Linked DNA regions of Homo sapiens: all the other regions are linked to region 2. A link means that fine-mapping ties the variant in region 2 to the plasma level of a protein whose gene starts in the linked region. Region 2 holds a variant in brackets. A gene starts in each other region. All regions are shown on their forward strands.

Evidence for each region. A credible set is the group of variants that fine-mapping cannot tell apart. PIP is the chance, under the fine-mapping model, that this variant and not a neighbour inherited with it causes the effect. The UK Biobank Pharma Proteomics Project read protein levels with antibody pairs (Olink). The fine-mapping took linkage between variants from a reference panel, not from the people measured, so its PIPs are less certain.
Region 1: it holds the start of DCTPP1, and the variant in region 2 is the best candidate, but not a certain one, in a credible set for the plasma level of the DCTPP1 protein (UK Biobank, PIP 0.84).
Region 3: it holds the start of SEZ6L, and the variant in region 2 is the best candidate, but not a certain one, in a credible set for the plasma level of the SEZ6L protein (UK Biobank, PIP 0.68).

The regions. Positions count from the first base shown.
Region 1 is chr16:30,426,844-30,432,065 of GRCh38, forward strand. DCTPP1 (dCTP pyrophosphatase 1) reads right to left here and starts at 3,187. Exons shown (of 3, transcript NM_024096.2): 1 at 3,037-3,187; 2 at 2,214-2,324. The coding sequence starts at 3,137. RefSeq lists enhancers at 1,290-1,790, 1,791-2,291, 3,045-3,124, 3,525-3,634.
Region 2 is chr1:161,570,201-161,575,422 of GRCh38, forward strand. No RefSeq gene overlaps it. Among named protein-coding and RNA genes, the nearest start is that of FCGR3A, 23 kb to the left of the region's middle. The variant A/G (reference allele first, on the strand shown) is at 2,245.
Region 3 is chr22:26,167,089-26,172,277 of GRCh38, forward strand. It overlaps SEZ6L (seizure related 6 homolog like), which reads left to right and starts at 2,374. Exons shown (of 17, transcript NM_021115.5): 1 at 2,374-2,675. The coding sequence starts at 2,582. LOC105372971 (a long non-coding RNA gene) reads right to left here and starts at 2,146. Exons shown (of 6, transcript NR_188586.1): 1 at 1,915-2,146. RefSeq lists a silencer at 2,397-2,526 and an enhancer at 3,353-4,292.

The DNA.
Region 1 (5,222 bases), not on the chromosome of region 2:
GGTGTGCCACCATGCCCAGCTAATGGTTGTATTTTTTAGTAGAGACAGGGTTTCACCATGTTGGCCAGGCTGGTCTTGAACTCCTGACCTCAGGTGATCTGCCTGCCTCGGCCTCCCAAAGTGCTGGGATTACAGGTGTGAGCCACCGCACCTGGACCTTTTTCGTTGGGTTTTTTTTTTTTTTGAGACGGAGCCTTGCTCTGTCGCCCAGGCTAGAGTGCAGTGGCGCGATCTCGGCTCACTGCAAGCTCCGCCTCCTGGGTTCACGCCATTCTCCTGCCTCAGCCTCCTGCGTAGCTGGGACTACAGGCGCCCGCCACCACGCCCGGCTAATTTTTTTGTATTTTTAGTAGAGACGGGGTTTCACCGTGTTAGCCAGGATGGTCTTGATCTCCTAACCTCATGATCTGCCCGTCTCAGCCTCCCAAAGTGCTGGGATTACAGGTGTGAGCCACCCCGCCCAGCCCCTTTTTTGTTTTTTTTTTTTAAGGCAGAGTCTTGCTCTGTCGCCCAGGCTGGAGTGCCATGGTGTGATCTTGGCTAACTGCAGTCTCTGCCTCCTGGGTTCAAGCGATTCTTGTGCCTCAGCCTCCTGAGTAGCTGGGATTACAGGCGCCCGCCACCATGCCTGGCTAATTTTTGTATTTTTAGTAGAGACAGGGTTTCACCATGTTGGCCAGACTGGGTCATCACCTTGTGTTCTTTTCCTCATAGAACTTGTCATAATTCCAGATCTTCTAATATGAGATTACTGATTTACTGTCAATCTCCTTCCACTGTGAAGGTGGAAACCTTTCTGCCTTGTTCCAGGCCATATCTCAATTCTAGAAGACCTAGCACATAGGTGATGTTCATAAATCTGTCATGAGGCCATGTGCAGTGGTTCAACCTGTAACCCCAGTGCTGCGGGATGGTGAGGCAAGTGAATCACTTGAGACCAGGAGTTTGAGACCAGCCTGGGCAACAACAGCGAGAGATCCCATCTCTACAAAAAGTAAAAATAAATTAGCCAGGCTTGGTGGTGGCGCACGCCTGTAGACCCAGCTACTCCGAAGGCTGAGGTGGGAGGATCGTTTGAGCTCCTGAGGCTTCAGTGAGCTATGATCACACCAGTACACTCCAGCCTCAGCAACAGAGTGAGACCTTTTCTCTTAAAAAAATGACTGTCCTGGTCTAGGGCTCATCGCCTCTTGCCTGGTCTACACCAGCCAACTCTCTGGTGTCCCCTGCCCCATTCTCTCAGTGATCCATCCAATCCACCCTGTAGACACAGTGACCTTTCCAACACTCATATCTGGTCAGGTCTTCTGTCCAAACTCTCCATCATACTCTAGCCCTAATCATATCTTTGTGGGTTCAACTCCCACCCCTCTCCTCCACAGCCCTATCACTCATCCAACGTGTGCCTATTGAGCGCCTACTATGCGCTGGGCACTTGGGACACATCAGAGAAAACAGATCCCAAATCCCTGATTTTTCCTGAGATGCTTACAATGAAGGAGCGTCAGATTCTCCCTGAATTGAACTTGCCCTTTCTTGCCTCACTGCCCCTGCAAATGTAGTTCCCATGTCTGGAATGCCACAGGCAGGTCCTCTACAGAATACCTTCCTTTCAGCCCCAGAGGCAGAGGAAAAGGGTTGTTGGGCCAGGCGTGGTGGCTCACCCCTGTAATCCCAGCACTTTGGGAGGCCAAGGCGGGTGGATCACCTGAGGTCAGGAATTTGAGACTAGCCTGACCAATATGGTGAAACCCCGTCTCCACTAAAAATACAAAAATTAGCCAGGCGTGGTGGGGGGCACCTGTAGTCCCAGCTACTCGGGGGGCTGAGACAGAACTGCTTAAACCCAGGAGGCGGATGTTGCAGTGAGCCGAAATTGAGCCACTGCACTCCAGCCTGGGCGACAGAGCGAGACCCCGTCTCAAAAAAAAGCCAAAAAAACAAAAAACAAAAGAAGGGAAAAGGGTTGTTGCCACTGCTTCTTCCTAGACGGGACCTGTCCTGATGCTTTCACACCTCACACCTCTCTCTTCCAGGAGGCTGAGTGCCCCTAGAGGGCAGGGACCCGTGAGTCCTCTCTGCATCCCAACAACAGCAAAGAGCCTAGCAATCAGGAGGGGAAACTGAACCCATGAATGTTTGAAGACCAAATAAATGCTCCCCTCCCCTCCCCCACAACTCAGACTCTACCAGGAAGCTTTCCATCTACTCACAAGAGTTCTGCCAGCTCCCCCACTTCCCCAACCAAGGCCAGGAGGAGATTCCGAGGCTGATGGAACTGTTCCCAGTCTCGTTCCGCAGCAAACTCAGCATGGAGGCGGCGGCTGAAATAGGACAAAGGAGTGTAAGTCCAAGTCTCCGGGTTAGAGGGTGATGCAGGGGCCAGAGGCAGCTACCCCCGTAGTATGTAATGGGGCCTGGGACCAGGAGATTCTGCAACTAATTCATTGGATGGTATTGTGCAGGTCATTTCCTCTTTCCGGAACTTGGTTCCCTCATCTATAAAATGGGCGTGCCCCTGAACTGCCCTTAACATCTCGCCAAAACTAACAAAACCCTCTTCATTATTCCATCTCCTGCTGCTACTTCTGCAGTTTCCTCCACCTGGAATCGCCGCACATCAAAATGCAATTTCTCTTACAGAAGGTAGTTCCACAGACCCTTCCTCTAAGAAGCCTTTCTTGACCTCCTCCAGCAAAAAATAACGTCTCCCACCTCTCAGCACTTCGTTTGCCCCTCTCGTACCCCCGGCGCCTGGAGAGCAGAGGCGGTATCTGGTGCCGGTATCTTCCCAGGGCTAGGCTGAAGGGCGTTCCTAGTTACCACTCGGAGGCACCACCCAATTTCCCTTGCCTCAGGTGTGCACCGCTGCGCCCATTTTGCAGATGAGGTAAGAAGGCTCACCCAGGGACAGCCCACAGAGCCAGGACCCGAGCCCCGCTGCCAGCCCGCTTCCCGACCACGTGGAGGAACCCTCCCCAAAACGCGGGAGAAAGGGGCGACTTCCCCACCCCGAGCTGGGCCAGGCCTGCTTACATGTCCTCGAGCGTGGGCTCCGGGCTGAAGCTGAACCGGCCGGGAGCAGCAGTGTCCTCTCCCCCCGTGTCCCCACGAATCTCCCCACCGGCCACAGACATGCCGCCCACCGCTGCACCGCGACTTCACGGAAAACCCACGAGCCACGCTCGAAGCCCCGCCTCCAGAGCTCCGACCAATTACGGGAGTTCTCTATTGCCTCACGGGGCGGAGCCTGAGGAAAGAGACCAATGACTTTTGTGGAGTTTGCTACAGCCCTCCCCTTCCCTCACTGGACCAATCTGAGGGAGCTTCAAGCGCGCGTTTCTAGTCTTAGGCCCTGGAATTCTTCCGCTAGGCCCTGTGTCTAAAGGTAGAGGTACCAATTCGACCTGGGGAAGAGACGAAGGGCAGAGGGTGGGGGAAGCGCAGGCGCGTCACTTCGTTTATGGGCGCCAGAGGGCGCCAAAGCGAAACGGCAGCGGAAGAGGGCCCGTCAGGTGGAAAACCCTATAAATGAAAGGCCCTATGCATAGGTATTAAATCAGGGCTTAAGGACGTTGAGAAACCTCGAGGCCAACCCCCACACTATTTGGATGGGATTGAAGGGGAAGAGCGGAGTAAGATCAGACGGCAGTAGGACTTCAGCTCCCCGCCATCGCTGTGTCCTGTGGTTGAAACGATGGAGGTCGCCCCATCCCTGTCCTAAGGGAGGCAGTAGGCCCCAGCGCAACGTACATTGCCCTGAAACACGTGGCCCCTTATGGTCTGGCCTGTGCCGGCCTCTCCAGCCTCATGGGTCCCCAGCACGGCTCCTCCACCCCACACACGAGAACTCCAGGCTCCACTCACACCAGGGAATACGCGAGGTGGCGAGTCACAGGGTTGCTGCTTTCAAATCAGAACCACTGAGTTATTGGCCATGGGAGGAGCAGAGATCTTTATGAAACCCTAGAACAGGTGTAGTCTTGCAAAGAATGATTTATTATTGTACCCTTATTAGGGCTACTATCTCTGATTTCCACGTTTAAAGAGGCTTCCAGCTTGCTGGAAGTGAAAGCGTAAGAAAGCGCAGGAAGAGGCAGAGTCAGATTTTGGAAATTAAAATCCCAAGGCTGTGACAATTGCAATTCTAGGTATATGCCCTAGAGAAATTAATGAATATGTGCAGAGAGACACATGCAAGAAGTTCATTACAGTTTTGTTTCTAAGAGTGAAAAAAATTGAAAATAAAATGACTATCAACGGAAGAATGGCTACATGGAAGTATATTTATACAAATGATATTATCCAGCAGTTAAGATTGGATACATGCAACAGAAACAAGTTTAAACTGCTTTTAGCAAGAAAAAGAAATCTATTATTTTTATTTTTTAAATTTTTTATAGAGACAGGGTTTCACCATGTTGCCTAAGCTGGTCTTGAACCAGGATTGCTGGATTGGGCTCTAGCAATCCTCCTGCCTTGGCCTCCCGAAGTGCTGGGATTACAGGCACGAGCCACCCCCACCGGCCACAAGGAATTTATTGTAAGGATACAAGAGTGTCTCCAGAATACAGTGGGACCTCAGGAATGAACTGGAACTGGGGTGGCTGTTTTAAGCATTTTACATATTTAATCCTCATAGCAACTAATTTAATCCTCACAAAAACCCTATATGGTAGGTAATATTGTTGTCATCCCCATTTTAAAGATAAGGAAACTGAGGCCGGGCGCGGTGGCTCACGCCTGTAATGCCAGCACTTTGGGAGGCCGAGGCGGGCGGATCACGAGGTCAGGAGATCGAGACCATCCTGGCTAACACGGTGAAACCCCGTCTGTACTAAAAATACAAAAAATTAGCTGGGTGTGGTGGCGGGCACCTGTAGTCCCAGCTACTCAGGAGGCTGAGGCAGGAGAATGGTGTGAACCTGGGAGGTGGAGCTTGCAGTGAGCCGAGATCGCGCCACTGTGCTTCAGCCTGGGCGAAAGAGCGAGACTCCGTCTCAAAAAAAAAAAAAAAAAAAAAAAAAAAAAGATAAGGAAACTGAGAGGTTAAATAACTTAACAGCTAGTAAAGTGGTAGAGCTGGCGTCAAATCCAGGCAGTTTGGCTTCACAGTCTGTTATTAGACCCTATGATGTATTGCCTGAAATGGCGATAAATATGAAAAAAATAAATGTAACTGTATTTTAAATACTATGAAAGGCTGGGCGTAGTGGCTCATG
Region 2 (5,222 bases):
GGAGTGTGTGTGTGTGTGTGTGTGTGTGTGTGTGTGTGTGTATTTTAGTCTGCCTATGCTTCTTTGTCCTTCTTGGATTTGTGGTTTGATAACTTCCATTATTTTTGAAAAATTGTTGGCCATTTTCTCTTTAAATGTTTCCTCTCTCCCATTCTTTCTCTATTCTCTGGGATTTCAATTACATATATGTTAGGCCAGTTTACATTGTCCCACAGTTCTTGGGTGTTCTGTTCTATTTTCTTTTTTTTTATTCCTTGAATTTCAGTTTGGGTAATTTCTATGAACCCATTTTCAAAGTACTGATTTTTTTTTTCTCAGCTGTATGGCATCTACTGATGACCCTGCCTAATACATTCTTCTTCTCTTTTACTCTGTTTCAAAATTTGCTAATATTTCCATTTGACTCTTCGTATAGTTTCTATCTTTCTGCTGAAATTCCCCATCTGTTTATGTATGTTGTCTACCTTTTCCACTAGAGCCTTTAACATGTTAAATATGGTTGTAATTAATGGTTTGATTTTAAAATTCCCTATTTGATAGTACCAACATCTGAATCATCTTTTAGCAGTTTCTATTGCTTGCATTGTCTGTTGACAGGATTTTTAAACCTTGCTTTTCTGTGTTGGCTCATTGTTTTTATTGAATTCTGGACATTATATGTGGGACAGTAGGAACTGAGGTAAATTGCATTTATGATTAGAAATGAGAACCCGTCTTATTCTGGTAAGCTCTTAGTGTGGGCCAATCTAGTCAAGAGTTGAGCTGGGTTCGGGTTTTATTATTGCCATAGTTACCTTCAAATTCTTCTAGTGTTATCTTGTGCTTGGGTGGAGGCAGCATTTCAGTAGACCAAGAGCCGCCGGTACTCCTGGATGGTATTTTCTCAATTTTCCTGCACTACCCCAACTTTAGGACTTTCTAAAGTATGTGCCTGCACCTCAGAGATTCTCTCTTCAGTGGCAGAGTACTTTTGCTTCTTATTCAGTACTTGCTAGCCTGGGAGGTAGGGCAGAGATTTATCCATTGTGAAATTGCCTTTGCAGAATATATATATATAAATAAGGAGAGAAATCTGGCTGGGCGTGGTGGCTCATGTTTGTAATCCCAGCACTTTGGGAAGCTGAGGCAGGTGGATCACCTGAGGTCAGAAGTTCGAGACCAGCCTGGCCAAGATGGTGAAATCCAGTCTCTACTAAAACTACAAAATTAGCTGGGAGTGGCGGCAGGCGCCTGTAATCCCAGTTACTTGGGAGGCTGAGGCAGGTGGAGAATTGCTTGAACCAGGGAGGCAGAGTTTGCAGTGAGCCAAGATCCCACCACTGCACTCCAGCCTGGGTGACAGAGCAAGACTCCATCTCAATAAATAAATAAATAAATAAATAAAAATAAAAAATAAACGAATAAAGAGAGAAATCTAACATGACTGACTCCATCCTGCTTCTAACCCACAGGCGAGTTTTTTTTTTCTTATTCTAGCATGGAGGTCAAAATAGCTATGAGTGACGTTTATAGTTAAACTTTGAGTCAAGGGAAACTGAACTCCCTCCTTGTTCAAGATTGAAACTGCATTCATAAGACAAGGTTAAAATACGGTAGGGACTTTAACTTTGCTGAAGAATAGACTCAGTTAAACAATGACCTGCCATTGCTTAGTGTGTCTTCCTCACTTCCTTGCTTTCCATGTGTCCTTACAGTAGCATGTTGCTTACTGCACCAGAGTCACGTAACCGGGGATTGCAAAATTTATAACTTCCCCAACTACTCCTATAGATAACATCACTATTGTGAACCCTGAAGAACGAGTCTTCGAGGTATTTTTCAGATTCAACATTTCAGTAGACCAAGAGACGCCACTAGGTCCTGAGATCCACCCACTCCTGGGAACTGACTTGGCTGCGTGAAGACAGCTTTAGACACCCCTGTAATTTCATCCCCAGCCAATCGATTGTTCCAGTTTCCAAGCCTCCTGCCCACCAAAGTACCCATGAAAAACCCTAGTCTCTGAATTGTCAGGGAGATGTGTTTGAGAAATTGCTGCTTGCTCTCTTCACATGGCTGGCCCTGTGATTATTAAACTCTTTCTTTGCTGCAATAGCCGCTGTTCTTGTTGATTTTTTCAGGGCAGTGGCTAAGAAGAACGTGTGGGGCTGTGACAGCTGTTCTAGTCCCGCCTCAGTTTTAGTCGGGCCTTCTGTCCCTGGATCTTGAGGATAGGGCTTTTTCAGTGATCCTAGATCTCACTCA[A/G]TGGTAGAAGACCTGTAATCATCTAGGCTTGGGATGGTTTCCAGCCCCTTCCCCAAGGGTAGAGAGTTGTTTTTTGTTGTTGTTGTTGTTGTTGTTTTTTCCTGTTCCTTTCCTCCAGGTGTAATGGGCTCTTTTCCTCTGCTCTGTGCCCTGGGCCCTTATTCTAGTGATTTAAGACATTTGTTCCTTAGAAAAAAGGATTCAGGTGGGCTTCATGCCTTTCCCAGAATGATGGCTGCTCCATTACCTAGGTATGTATTCCCTGGCCACAAGCTTTTCATGAGCTCTGGTGGAGGCCCATGAAGATGCTTCAAATGCGTAGGAATGGCCCTTGTATCATGAGCTCTCAGTTCTTGGCCACATCTGGCTTTCAGCGATTTATTAAAAATTTTAGCTGAATTCTTCTAACCCATTTGAATGGTAGCCCTGCCTTCCTTCCACGCTGTCTTACAGGTGAGCCTGTGCTCATATCCTAGCCCTCTTTAGAAACACCTGTCTTTTCTTAGATTTCAGGGTACTTGGTTGCCTCACTACCTCAGCACTCTGACGGGTTCAAGAAAAGTTATCACTTTGTGTATTATCTGTTTTTTTTCAGGTGTTTCTAATTAATACAGGTTTTTTTGGGGGGGTGTTTCTAATGAAAACATTTTAATGAGGCTGGTTTTCACAGCTGTTTTTATACCACAAATCAAAATGGCCAAGTCCAAAATGAAAAATCACCAGAATGGCAGGGCATAATGAATTTAAGCACAGAAATTAGATGAAGTTATCTGTTTCTCACATGACTTGATAATCTAAAAAGCAGAAAGTAAAATGGTATGTTTTAAAAGTTATCATCAAAAGTGTCCTTGAGGTCGGCACTGACTGTGTCCTGATGGCCATGCAGGCAGGAGTTGTGCTATGTAGGTAGGCTCTGCTATTTGCTCTTCACACGTCTGGTTAGTTTACAATCTCTCCTTGTTCTAAGTTTTCACCAAAGCCTGATACTGGCTTTTGTTTCCCTTGAGGCTATGTTGTTTCTCATATAAACATGATTTCCATTTTATGACTGTCCTAACCCTTCATGGTGCAAGCCTGTTTCTCTGAGCTACTATATTCTTCATATATTTATGTTATTACTTCTTACTATTCAGAAGTACCTTAATATTCAGAACTACCCTTCAAATTGGAGGGCTCTTTTCTGACCATATTCTCAGCTGTTGGACAGGGGACAGGGACCGATCATGCTGGGTGGTTGGAAAAGCCTATGGGAGGCCAAGTAGGGGAGACCTACTGCCAGGACTATCACTCCAAGCTCGATTCTTGGGCCTTCCACCTTCACATTCTAGAGGAAAGCATATTGCCACTCATCCAAGTTGTGTGCTGTGATTGCTAGTGAAATCTGATCAGCTCCGGGGGCTCTCAGCTCTTGGCTGTCAATGCAGGGTGATAGTGGGCTACAGGGGGAGGAGGTAAAGAAGAGAGATTATGCAGATATGTCTGAAATCACAATCTTTCTGATTAGATATTTTGGCTCTATAATCAATTGTTTCTTCTAACACTCACACTTTTCCTCAATTTTTATTTATTTATTTATTTATTTATTTTGAGACTGAGTCGCTTACTCTGTCACCCAGGCAGGAGTGCAATGGCGTGATCTCGGCTCACTACAACCTCCACCTCCCGGGTTCAAGCAATTCTCCTGTCTCAGCCTTCCAAATAGTTGGGATTACAGGCACGTGCCACAACCCCTGGCTAATTTTTTGTATTTTTAGTAGAGATGGGGTTTCACCATGTTTGCCAGGCTGGTCTCAAACTCCTGAGCTGAGGTGATCCACCTGCCTCGGCCTCCCAAAGTGCTGGGATTACAGGCATCAGGCATCGTGCCCAGCCTCAATTTTTAATTCTACGACTTTCTGCTCTAATTCAGGTGAAGCACAGGATAGGTTTGTATTGTTTTTATATCTGTCTCCTGCAAATATCCTATCTTTCCCATTGTAATGAGGGTTCCTCAGGACAGAGACCACTGTTCTTCTCATTTCTTCATTTCTTCCTCCCATCCATCCCCACCCCATCTTTCTTACCTAGCAGAGTCAACATTGGGTTAGAGCACTGCATATGGGTTGAGTAAATCAGTCACTAGTTGATCCCCATGAGTTATTGCTTTCCTGCTCAGAATTTGTTGCTATTGCCACTCTCAGTATCATTTCCCTCCAGTGATTCCTGAAGACCTCATTTTACTTCTGTAATTCTGCCAGGGACCAAGTTAACTGCAGCCTGCTCTTCTGCTCCAGTCACAGTAAACTCTTCTCCTAGGGTCTCTACTGAGACTGGAGGCCACAGGAAAGAACAGATGCTGAGCAGGAACCTCCACTGTCCTCTCGTACAAAATACTTTTCCCAGTTTCTAGAACGATAAACCGCGACCCGATTGAAGGGCTTTTCCATAAGACTACTCAACCAGCAGCAATACTTACCTTCATATTTGCAACTTTACTGAAATACCTTGGTCAGAGGAGATCTCCTTTTAATTTTTATTGTGTATTTATTTAGTAGAGGCAGAGATCTCCTTTATTTACATTCCAATCACTTTTAGGATCTGTCCTGCCTTATCAATCTGCCAATAAATGCACAAAGAGAAATGGATGATGGGAACTTGATGGTGGCAAGATTTGTTTCTTTTTTCTTTTTTCTTTTTTCTTTTTTGACAGAGTCTTGCTTTGCTGCCCAGGCTGGAGTGCAGTGGCATGATCTTGGCTCACTGCAACCTCCACCTCCTGGGTTCAAGCAATTCTCCTGCCTCAGCCTCCCAAGTAGCTGCGATTACAGGTGTGTGACACCACAGCTGGCTAATTTTTACATTTTTAGTAGAGATGGGGTTTTACTATGCTGGTCAGACTGGTCTCGAACTCCTGACTTCAAGTGATCTGGCTGCCTCAGCCTCCCAAAGTGTTGGGATTACAGGCGTGAGCCACCATGCCTGGCTGACACGATTTGTTT
Region 3 (5,189 bases), not on the chromosome of region 2:
GAGAGACCATGCTCGGTGTGGGACAGCACCTGGCAAACAGTGGATTCTTTACACAATAGTTTCCTTCTCAGTTGGGTTGTTTGGTTTTTTTCCTGTAAATTTGTTTAAGTTCCTTATAGATGCTGGATATTAGACTTTTGCAGATGCATAGTTTGTAAAATTTTTCTCCCATTCTGTAGGTTGTCTGACATTACTGGGTATATACCCAAAGGAATATAAATTGTTCTATTATAAAGACACATGCCCATGTATGTTCATTGCAGCACTATTCACAAGAGCAAAGACATGGAATCAACCTAAATGCTCATCAATGAATGAGCATATATACGGTACATATACACCATGGAATACTATGCAGTCATAAAAAAGAATGAGATCATGTTCTTTGCAAAAACATGAATGGAGCTGGAGACCATTATCCTTAGCACACTAATGCAGGAACAGAAAACCAAATATCACAAGTTCTCACTTATAGGTGGGAGCTAAATGATGAGAGCACACAGACACATAGAGGGGAACAACACACACAGAGGCCTACCAGAGGGTGGAAGGCAGGAGGAGGGAGAGGATCAGAAAAAAATTACTATTGAGTACCAGGCTTAATACCTGGTTGGTGAAATCATCTGTACAACAAACTCCCATGACACAAGTTTGCACACATAACAAACCTGCACAAGTACCCCTGAACCTAGGAATTAAAAATAGTTTCCTTGCCTCCAAGTATGGAGCTAAACTACCTCTTCGTTTTTCTCTCGCTCGCTTTCTTCCCTTTCCCCTCCTCCTCCATCTTCCTTGCTTCTTTAGGTTTCCATTGAACAAGTCTCACTGAGCACCCGCTGCATGCCTGCATTATACTATACAGAGCCTGAGCGTATAGCCACAAACAGGCAAGGTCATTCCACAGAGAGCTGGCAGCCTCATACAGTAAAGCATGGAGTGCTTCATCTTCTCCAAAGGAGAAATCAGCACTCCTGCATCCCTGCCTCAGCCACCTTCTTTATAAAAGCCAGTTGGGTTTACTGCCAGGAATGGAAACCTCTTGCAGCTGAAGATAGGATTTTATGGGGGGGCTCTCTGTCCCCCAAAGCCTGAGGCAGGTCTGGGCCTATAGTCAGTGGCCTGTAAAAGAGCATTGTTTGAGTGAGTAAATGGGGAAGCTCTGGGTGTGGAGCGTCTTCTGAAACCCTGGGCCAGAGTGCTTCTCCTTCCCTCCTCCATCCAGTGTTCACCTCCCCCACCCATTCTTTCTAGGGACTCCCGGCTCCACCACGCTGCTAAAGACATATTCCTCCCCCTGTTGCTGCCTGCAACCTTCTCTCCATCTGCTCCCTCTGCCTGTTCAGGCTGCAGTGTGTAGATAGTATGGCAAGGTAGGGTAGGGGGAGGAGGACAGCTTCTAAATTGGGTGAGAGGCCTGTAAAGCCTGACCGGTCTGCCAAGGCTACGCAGGGAGAGACAGTCAGTCTCCAGGACTGTGCATAAGCTTGTCCCCACCTAGCTCTCTGCCAATGTCTGTCCCCAAGTATCTGTTTATCTCCCTCATTGATTGTCCCTCACTACCTCTATTTGTGGAGAAAAGACTTTGCTTGAGAATCAGGCCTGGGCAAGAATGCTGCAGAGGTGGGCCTTGTAGTCCTGCTCAGATAGGGAAGCGGGTACAGGAAGAGGCAAGCGGCTGACCTGAGAGGAAGCCTCGCAGCGCTAGTGCCCTGCCGGCAGTGGGGTTATGGGAGACAGGGCTCAGATTAAAAAGTGGAGGTGGATCTTAATTTAGAGTTCGTGATTGGGCTTCAGAGGGGTCCAGACCCCCTCGTGTTAGATGCACGATTTTGTGGCTATGTGTAGTGTTCTAGTAGATTCACAGCTGTCACCAGATCCACAGAGTTACAGACTTTCTAGGTTATGGGGACTCACTTTGGAAGCAGTGAGGCCCTGGCGGGGAAGCAGGCTGGCTGGATCCCAGAGGGCTCTGGAAAGAACTGGAACTGGGATGTATCTGGAAGGCTGGGCAGGCAATGGAAAGCTCCGGGCTGCTCATAAGCTCGGTTTCCAGGGCTCCATCTCACCGTCTGGAAAATGGTCCGGGTGCTCTCCAGCCTGGCCTGGCCAGGCAGAGCTGCTGGGAGCGTCAGCAGGGAGAGAAAACGCTCGGCTCCCAGGACGCAAGGGGAATTGGCGTTAAACTTTGCAGGGCCGACGGGCCGGCGGCCAGAGGAGGCGGCTGGCACCCCCGGCGCCGCCGCGGCCCCTCCAGCTCACTGCCCGCTCGCCCGCCCCCTCCCTCCCTGCACTCGCTCGGCACAGACTCGGCCCCAGCCCCCTCCCTCCTCCCGCTCGCTCCACGCTCGTTCGCTCGCTCGCCGGCTCCTCCTCACTCGCCCGCCCGCGCCCGGCGCAGCTCGGCCAGAGCGACCGCGGGGCTGAGCGCGCGTCCGCCCAGGGGGCTCCGGAAGCTGCCCCGGCCCGCGGCCTCCTCCCTCGCTCCCGCTTCCCCTTTCTCGCTCACCGCCGCCCTCCTTCCCCAGCTCCCTCGCCGTCCGCCCGCCCCACAGCCAGCGGCTCCGCGCCCCCTGCAGCCACGATGCCCGCGGCCCGGCCGCCCGCCGCGGGACTCCGCGGGATCTCGCTGTTCCTCGCTCTGCTCCTGGGGAGCCCGGCGGCAGCGCTGGAGCGAGGTAAGCGCCCCGAGGGGCGGGGCGGGCAGGGGGCAAAGTTGCCGGGAGAGCGGGGCAGCCAGGGGTCGGGGCTGACCAGGGCGACTCAGGCACCACCCGCCGGGATGGGAAGCGGTGGTGGCTGTCCAAAATCGGGGCTAGGAACCGCACGTCCCCTTGGCCCGGGCTGATGGGAGTGTGGAGGCGGGGATGTGTTGAAGGACTCGGGCGCTTCCCTGCTTCGGCTGCGGGCTCCCTTTCGGTCTTCCCCGGCTGCGGGGCTGATTCTCCTTTGCAGCCAAAGAGGTTCTCCTTGGAGTGGGGTCGCCTCCAAACCCCAAATTCCCGGCGCTTCTCTGCAACCGCACCCGGGGCTAGGTGCCAGATAATTATCTTCCTCTCCGGGAGAGGACAGGAAGGGGGGTGAGAAGCTGACCCACCCTGCAACTGAGGACTAGACTCAAACAGTGCATTTGCCGCTCCCCCCGACACCACAGAAACCCTTGACTCCTTTGGTTCAGGCTACCCCGAGGGTCTGTGTTCCTGGATCGATCTCAGCCAAGCGTCAGGATACCGGACTTGGGTGTGGCTTTCGCTAGAGGCCGGTGGAGGGGGCTGAGGGCTCTGAGAACTTGGTAGGGGAGGGAGAAGAGATGTTAGTTAGCAGTTGGGAACCTGAACGGGCTCCCCTCTACTCTCTCCCCTACTGCCTAGCATCTCTGATCACTGTTAGGAATGGGGGGTGAGGGGTGTTAGTTTCATCTACCACGTGTTTGTTGAAGGGGAAGAGGGGCCCAAATTTAGCAGAGAATGACAGCTCCTCTTTCTCAGACCTGGAACCATACCCTCTCTCCACCCCGGTAAGGTACCCCAGGAAAAGTTATGGGTGGGGGAGAGGGCCAGATAGAGAGAGGGGTGCAACGCCTAACTCACCCAAAGCTAACCCTCAGAGCTTCGGGGGTTTTCTCAGGCACCTAGGAGACCCGAAAATCAATGGGAGGGTTAGTTGGCCACAGGACCCGGCCTTCTTGCAAGGTCCCAGAAATGCGCTCCTCACGTGTAAAAAAGCAGACAGCTGCAGGGTCTGCCCAGGCTGAAGACAGAGGGAGCGCAGGCACTATGCTTATCTGGGGCTCCGCCTCTGTCATTTGCACCGTCTTGACTCGGAGTTGGGGGACAGGCGGTGTTCTTCTCCGGGGAGTTCTGGACCCCCAGCGCGCGCACCTGCTTTCAGCACCAAAGGCCCTGGACAGCTCTCAGCTCCATGGGCCCTGGCTCTGGGTCCCTTTCCCTTCAACCCTTCCCGGTGGCCTGGAGTGCCCCCCTCAGCATAAATCAGGCATTTTATCCCCCATCTCCCCGTCTTTTTAAATGTAGAGCCCAGAGTGCAGAGCAAAGGAAATTGTTCATCACCTTTTGTTTAACAAAGCATATCATTGAAGAACCCCCACCCCTTTTTTATGGGGCAATAATGTCCACAATTTACACCAGGTCTGGACAGTTTCTCTGGGAAAGATAGGGAAAGAGATTTGGTTTAAACAAATCGTTTCCACCACAGCATGGCCTTTCTTAATTAGCTGTCTCTTTCTAACAATGGCTTGGTGGCCTTGAACTGAGTCCAGCTCTCCCTCCCCCACCCCCTTTTGAATCTGTGTTGTGACTAACACACATATAAAAAGAACCTGAATCTACCCAGCAGCTTACTGGATTTTCTAAAGCAGTTCTACCTCTGAGAACTCCACTCTCCAATACACCACCTTGCAGGGAAAAAAAAATTGTCTTAATGGCACGTATTGAATTGTCATCTAAGACAAGGATTTCCTATTCTGTTTCCTTCACGGGCTGCAAACACATTGTAAGAGCAGGGGGAGACATGTGTGTGTTTTAATTTTTAAGACATTTCATACTATTTTTCCAACTGCTCAACACCATGGCTAGCCAGCATATTTTTTAAATTGACTTCAGGTCACCACCAAATTAAAGTCAATTGATGTGCTACTTCAGAAAGCTCATTAATAAGTGTGTGGTTCTGACTCTGAGTCATAAGGAGGGAGTGATACTGGCCAATGAGCATTGCCGAGTCTGATGGTGCATTTGGAGACAATTGACCTTCCACAATAAATTCTATTTTTAATGTAGAGCCCAACATCCACTAATGTCAGATGGAGAACCATTCACCTAACTCGTTGTTGCGAACTAGTTCTTCTGCTTGCGGTGAAGTGAGGGGATTTGTAAATACTCAAAAGGGACTTGTTGCTACATTCTGATGCAGGTCACGTGGTTCTCTGGGCCATTTCGCTGTAAGGCATGAATAAGTATAAAGTATAACTTGTTTTTGAAGAGCCTCCTTATTGTCTCAGATATGCACATGGGGAATAATTGTAACTACATGCAAAGACTGCAAAGCCTAAGAATAATTTCTTTTCTTTTTCTCTTGAATTAATAAGGCAAATTCAGTATTGCTCAATAAGGCTCAAATTTGCTGCTTCCCCAGTCTCTAACGTGTGTTGTGGTTAGATTCACTTAAAGACTATT